Homo sapiens: one gene and its partner. The protein of the gene in region 1 purifies or fractionates together with the protein of each later gene. This does not show direct contact. Each region holds a gene or a part of one and is shown on either strand. Other genes may lie near its edges.

What was found.
Region 2: the proteins of RLF (region 1) and ZNF280D purify together in Homo sapiens (affinity purification with mass spectrometry, with the first as the bait; one large-scale study listed by BioGRID). This does not show direct contact.

The regions. Positions count from the first base shown.
Region 1 is NC_000001.11:40,188,560-40,192,387, forward strand, and holds part of RLF (zinc finger protein Rlf), read left to right. Parts: intron 1-495; coding exon 496-650; intron 651-2,212; coding exon 2,213-2,294; intron 2,295-3,828. UniProt on the Homo sapiens protein: May be involved in transcriptional regulation.
Region 2 is NC_000015.10:56,660,408-56,664,235, reverse strand, and holds part of ZNF280D (zinc finger protein 280D), read left to right. Parts: intron 1-3,828. UniProt on the Homo sapiens protein: May function as a transcription factor.

The DNA of each region.
Region 1 (3,828 bases):
TTTAGAAATTAGTTAGCATAAATTAACCCTTGGAAGCCTAATCAATTCCATGTGTCCAGAAAAAAAAAAAAGGATTTTATGGTGCTGTAGAACTGAGAGTCATATTCAGGAATAATTCATCTCTTGTTGTAGAAGGCAGGGATCATAGTCTTATTCTTATGTACCCAGTGCTTGGCACATGGTTGAAAACTCATTATTGAATTATAGAGATGGCAACTCCAGACCTATAGTGAGAACAACTAGACATTTTATGGCTCTACTCTTAGAATTATTCTGACATCAAAAGAGTAGTTCTGCCATTTCTTTAACTCAGCAGAAATCATTCATTAAGTGATGAAAATAGAAGCTTCTAAACAAACCAGAGCCTTAAAAGGCAAATAAAAGGTATATGCATCTGTTAGAAAAAAAATGGGAGAGCTATGTGGTGTGTTTGAGGACAAAGACAATCTGTTTCATTATTTTTATTTGTAAATAATTTTTAATTTTATTTTGTAGACCTTATTGCAATATGCAAGCAACAAGAATGCATCAGAACATATTGTGTATCTTCTGGAGGTATATCGACTTGCCATCCAAAGCTTTGCCAGTGCACGTCCATACTTAACTACTGAATGTGAAGATGTCCTCTTAGTGCTTGGCAGATTAGTACTGTAAGTTTGAGAACTTAAATCACTCTTAAAATTGAGTACCATTGGTCGTGTTGTTTGCCTGGTTTCTCTTTACAGTGGCATCACATTTATTCTTCAGAGCACCATTAGAGTCATACCATTGAATGAAATTTCCTTCCTACTCACGTTCCCAGGAGATATAGTCCAAGTGAAGCTCCAGCCAAGCAACATCATCTTTAACTTGCCTCTAGAGTCTCTTTTCCTATTCAGGCTTGGAATCTGAGAATGATATATTTCTATCCCTTAGGTATAGATTGATTTAAATGACAGAATACCTGGAAACTGGTAGTCCTTGAAGAACATCTTGGCAAAAACAACATGAAATTCTGCAATTTGATTATATTTGAACTAAGAATAATTTTATTAGCAAAAAATATCAGGGTACAGTATAAGATTACCATCCTAAGAAAGAGATCATGATTTAGCGCGGGCATGGTGGCGCACGCCTGTAATCCCAGCACTTTGGGAAGAGGCTGAGGCACGAGAATCGCTTGAACCTGGGAGGTGGAGGTTGCAGTGAGCCAAGATGGCGCCACTGCACTCCAGCCTGGGTGGTGGAGTGGAGACTGTCTCAACAACAAAAAAAAAAGAACGTGATTTAGCTGTTATTTTAATATTTAGCTGCATAGTAGCAGACAAAATTACACCTTTATTGTAATTTTCATCTGCAAATTGAAAAGATACAACAGCCAATCAGTTTTAGCTGGGCATCACCTTGTTCAACTTACAGATTGTTTAGTGAGATGACTTCTAGTCTAGATGGTTTATTTTATTTTTTTTCTAGCCTCACCTGTTTTCCTTCCTATTTTCCAGTGGCCCTTTATGGAAGACCAGCATTCCTGGTTTTATGATCATATTTTTCCTTCTACCAAGTCCTAGTTTCTGTTTTACCTATTGTAATCCCTAAGGGGTAAAGGATTATTCTGTAGGGTTTTAGAGAGATGTTGATTCATTGGTATTTTGAGTTGCTCATTATTCAAGTTGTAGTGCATTTCTTTTTTCAAAAAAATCTTCCTGTTATTTCTTTTCTGTGTCTTCTGGATAATAGTCAGAAAAAGGAAACTCTTTTGCTTGGTTTTTTTTACAGGTAAAGAAACGACTTTGCCAGTCTTCCTGCTTCCTCTGCAAGTGACAGAAACCTATAGATAACAGTTACATATATTTATCATTTATCATTTTATCAGCTGAATTGACAGTAGTATGAGCTCCCATTTTTGTCTACTGGAATTAGAATTGTCCTATATGGGTGCCTCTTCACACCCAAATAAACAAAATAAAACTGCTTGGAATGTGATTTCTAAAGAGCTTATTATATTCTTACCAAATGTACTAAAGCAACAATGTAAATATAAAGCCTTGTGGTCTTTCTTTTTTTCCTCCTTTTTAAATTGAACAGTCAATATAACAACTCTGAAGCAAATTTTGAAGAGTAAAAACATTTAAAATAGCCTAAACAAATGTAAAATAGATTTTTAGTATTGCTGTCATACTCTACTTAATTATTACTATAACCACCTTTATATACTTACTCATTTTTATTGTAGGAGTTGTTTCGAATTACTGCTTTCAGTGTCTGAAAGTGAACTGCCATGTGAAGTCTGGCTACCATTCCTTCAGTCTCTACAGGTGAGTTGATTTTAACTCAGAAAAGTTTTCTGTATCCAAGACACCTAATTAATTACTCCCAGCAAACTAAAATTGGAACCTTAGAACAAAAACAAGTTTATTATATATTGATATTAGGTCATGAAATGATAAAAAGGCCCTTCACATGAAGGGGATGTATTAAAAATGGGTTTTTTAAATTTGGTTTTGTTTGCCTCTACATAGTTAGAAATCAACAAAAAAGTTTCATTATTCAAACATAAAGTTTAGACAGCATAAAGCTATCAAAATCATACATGATTATAAAGTAACAGTATTTGGATCCTTCATAGCATACTTATTGGTAACCTTCAATATACAAAACACTATTTCATTACATCTAAGGTTCACCTTTTTCTTCCTAACACTTTAAGAATTGTACCTGGCTGGGTGTAGTAGCTCACGGCTGTAATCCCAACACTTTGTGAGGCCAAGGCAAGTGGATCACCTGAGGTCAGGAGTTCGAGACCAGCTTGGCCAACATGCCGAAACCCTGTCTCTACTAAAAATACAAATATTAGCCGGGCATGGTGGCGGACACCTGTAATCCCAGTTACTTGGGAGGCTCAGGCAGGATAATCGCTTGAACCCAGAAGGCAGAGGTTGCAGTGAGCCAAGATCGCACCACTGCACTCCAGCCTGAGCAACAGAGTGAGACTCTGTCTCGGAAAAAAAAAAAAAAGACATAATAAATAATAGACCGGGCATGGTGGTACATACCTATAGTCCCAGCTACTCAGGAGGCTGAGGCAAGAGAATCTCTTAAGCCCAAGAGTCCGAGGCTGCAGTGAGATATGATCACACCACTGCACTCCAGCCTGGGTGACAGGGCTCATCCCTAAAATAATAGGACTCGTCTCTAAAAATAAATGCATGCAGTCATTCATTTATTGATCACTAATTATGTACCAATCACTGCTTTACACTACATTTTACTTGTTTTATATCTTCTAATCAAATTACAAACCTTATAGTGTGAGAATTATTTGAATCTCCATTTACAAATGGGGAGACAGGTGAAGAGAGGTTAATTAGCTTGGACAAAGTTACACACAGATTTCAAACCCTGAGCTTACTTTGCTAACTACTTCCTTGAGGACACAGCTTAGACCTGTTTCATGGAGGCACAAATAAAGACATGCATATTAACAGACACACTTCATTATCTGAACATTTCTTTCCTCTGGAATACATAACCCAAAATGAAATGATATAATGTTCTCTTTAGTGAGAAGAGGATTCTTTGTCATGTTCTTGGCCTATTTAAAGCCCTGTAATGCAGTCCTAATATCTCACATATCCGTACAGCTGCTAAAATCATCTTTCATGCGTAGCACTTTGATTTTTGTCACTCTGTGTTCTGAAGCCTGCCAGTCGTTTTGTTCTGGCATATGGCATCCTAGAAGGGCAAATCCTAATTAGGACTATTACTACTATATTAATACTGTTTGAGTATCCCATATCTCAAATGCTTAGGAGTAGTTTGGATTTTGGAATATTTGCATTACACTTAGTA
Region 2 (3,828 bases), on another chromosome or scaffold:
TTGAGTATTGCCCCCACCTACCAACTAACATTCCTCTTTTAAAGATTATCTGTTATGAACATATCACCATATTTACTCCCTATTTTTCATTCTTACTCCTCTGTGACTTCTTTAGAGTATTTGACATTGTTGTCACTCACTTTTTAAAACTTAATTTGTTTAATGTTCCTGACAGCCATGTGAAATTAATTAATTTAAAAATTTTTATAGAGACTACTTCATATTTGTGGAGTACATGTGATATTTTGTTACAAGCATACAATATGTAATAAACCCAGGGATATCCATCACTTCCAATTTTATCATTTCTTCATTTCTTCTTCTTTTTCTTTTTTTGTGAGATGGGGTCTCACTCTGTCACCCCAGAGTGCTAGGTCTTGCAGTCAAAGCTCACTGCAACCTCAAACTCCTAGGCTGAAGTGATCCTCCTGTGTTAGCCTCCTGAGTAGCCATATAGGTGTGTGCCACCATGCCCAGCTACATTTATCATTTCTTTGTGATGGGAACATTCAAAATATACTCTTCTAATTAGTTTGCAATATACAAGAAATTCTTGTTCATTGTCATCACACACAGCTCTTAGTGTCATATGGAACTAAAAGCTTCCATTGCCACTCTTAGGGTTGGGTAGGTCTTTTTGTCTTTTTCTCAACCTCAGTGGTACCCTTGCTTCCCTCATTGCATTAGGTGCATCCCACTGAATGGCGAACTCTTCTCTGCAGTGTTGATTCTTGTTAGAAGTTTGAGGTTTATATATACAGAAGCCTGATTTTCTCCAAAGCATGAGAACCTTTAATTCCTATCCCGTACTAACTCTGTAGCCTCTCAATTGGTCTTTTTCCCTTTGGTCTCATACCTGCCCCAATCCATCCCTGTAAGTTGGTTAATCTTCCACAGAGTATAGTTTCTTCCATATTAATTTTCTTTCTTTTTTCCTTTTTTTTTTTTTTTTTTGAGAAAGGGTCTCACTCCAACCCAGGCTGGAGTGCAGTGGCTCCATCACAGTTCACTACAGCCTCAACCTTCTGGGCTCAGGTGATCCTCCCACCTCAGCGTCTTGAGTAGCTGGGACTTACAGGCATGCACTACCATGCTCAGATAATTTTTTTTTTTTGTAGGGATGGGATTTTTTCCATTTTGCCCAGGCTGGTCATGGGCTCCTGGGCTTAAGTGATCTGCCTACTCTAGCCTCTTAAAGTGCAATGATTATAGCTGAGCACCCCCTCTGCACCTGGCCCCATGTTTGTTTTCTACAGTGACTATTCGGTATTCCTTGTTAGTTCCCAGAATACCCTGTTCCTTCCTCTCAGTTTACCTTCTTTTTTCAAGTGTCTGATCACCACAGCCGTTACTTTCTTTGAATTGTGTACTATTCATCTATTTTGCCTTTTTTTTTTTTTTTTTTGAGACAGAGTCTTGCTCTGTCACCTGTCACCCAGGCTAGAGTGCAGTGGCAAGATCTTGGCTCACTGCAACCTCCACCTCCCAGGTTCACGCAATTCTCCTGCCTCAGCCTCCCAAGTAGCTGTGATTACAGGTGCCGCCAACATGCCCAGCTAATTTTTGTATTTTTAGTAGAGATGGGCTTTCACCATGTTGTCCAGGCTGGTCTCAAACTCCTGACCTCAGTTGATCCACCCGCCTTGGCCTCCCAAAGTGCTGGATTACAGGCATGAGCCACCGTGCCTGGCCCTATTTTGCCTTTTATTGTATTTATTTGTGTTTGTATTATCTTCTTGAGAAGAAGGGGGTCTTTGTATTTATCATATCACCTAGCACATTACAAACTGCAGGTGATAGTCATTATTTGTTTTAATTATAAAAGGTCCTAAATAAAATCTCAGAAGAAGGTGTTCAAAAATCTTGAAGCAGTTGGAGTATTGTTGGAGTAAGATCTTTTCAAAGAAAAGCATCATTAAATGTGTAATTTTTAATTTTTTTTAAGCAGCATTTTTTAGGTTCAGTTCTTTAAATTATTGTACCTTATTGGCTTATAGCTTTTAGGTAGTAATAGAAATTATCTGAAAAAAATGCACATAAATTGCTCTATAATCTTGCTATTATTCCTCAAAATGATGTATAAGAAGCATTTTTCTTTACATAAAAGAGAATTAAGTTAACATACATAAGCAGTATCTCTTTTTTGTAGCAGAGTTTTATTATTTCAACCAGGTTCATGTATTTTATTATGTACCTACTAGGAAGGTATTTAATACAATTTGCTAAGAAGTATGGCAAGCTGGGGGTGAAGAATCAAACAAGTCTGGATTTGAATCCAACCTTCACTGTATACATGTGGAACTTTGAACAAATTACTTAATCTGACTCTCAGATTGCATTTCTTGAAAAGAAAGTTATTGTGACTTTTAGAAAAACTGTATTAAAGTGCTTAATAACAATTTGCACTTAAGAGATATTCAAGTAATGATAGCTATTAATTTCTAAGTTGTCATTATTAGGATTGGGGGAGTTCCTGACTGTAATTTTCACAATTTAGAAGGGGAAATAAATTTACCTAGGTTATTGTGATAAACAAATGACTATGAAAGTACGGAGGAGGTAAAGATGAAATCTTTAAACAAGAAATAAGGGAAGATTTTCTGTAAATTTCACTTAGGCTTTGAGGGATGATTTTTAAAATTTCCAAGGAAAAAGAAAGCTAGTATAAAAATTTGTTTCTTACACAGTAGGTACGACAGAGTACTGAATTTTAAAAAGGTCTGCTTGACTTCATTATAAATTTTACAGAAATTTATTGACACTAAATGATAATCATAGGACTAGTTAGACTATTATGTCTTCTGCCTACAGTTTTCCCCCTTTTTTCCAGTTCATCCTTTCTTTTGCTGTAGGCAAATCTGGTCAGGTCATTCTTTGGCCTAAAATCCTTTCCTAACATTGATAGAATGAACTTCAGATTTTCTGGAAAATATAACACCTTTCCATATCAGATTCCTAACTACTTTTCAACTCCTTCAACTCCTTTTATTCTCTTGAAAATTCTTCTATATCTTCACAGTTACTCTTTGCTTTGCCTGGAAGTGAAGCAGTAAGAGTCTTCTAACTGCAGTGAACTCCTAATTGTTAGCTGGCTTCTACCCCATCTGTCTTGCAGCTTTCCTTCATGCAACCACAAACTCTGTATGTGTCACTATTGACTTTTATCTTGTGTTAATTATTTATGAATATGTATTCATTGATTTAGCAAATATTTTTTGGGCATTCATTCTGTGCCATCCCCTTTCTCCCCCAAACACTCCCCCCAAGCAACCATAAACTCTAGGGCAGGCAGCTTGCCTTTGTTGTTGTATCATCGGCCTCTAGTCTAATGTCTTAAAATTTTTAAGGAAATTGTTCCTTTTATGTTTCTTAGAAAGTAAGGTTGTTACTTATGTGGAATCAAGATTATGAAGAAAATATGATTAGAGGAGGTTTTTGACCTCAGTTTTCTTGAGGTATAATTTATACACAATAAAATTCACCTATTTTTAGAGAATTGCTTAATGAGTTTTGATAATTATATACTGTCAGCTAATCAAGTAAGGGATTTTTTTAAAAAATTAGGTTTTAACATTATATTTTTACTATATTGTAATAAAAAACCTTTCTTAGATTTATTTCTATATTGCTATTACCTTTATGGAGAGCTAATAGGAAGAAGGGTAGTATTTTTTTTTCCTTTTTATGTGTGAGCTGTGAATTCACTTTTCCCTTCCTGTGATACACAAAACTATAAGTATGGAATTAAATACAGAGAAATCAAGCAGGTGGTAGAAATCCCTTTTTATAGATGAGAAACTCTAAAACAATTCAGGTAACCAAAAATTT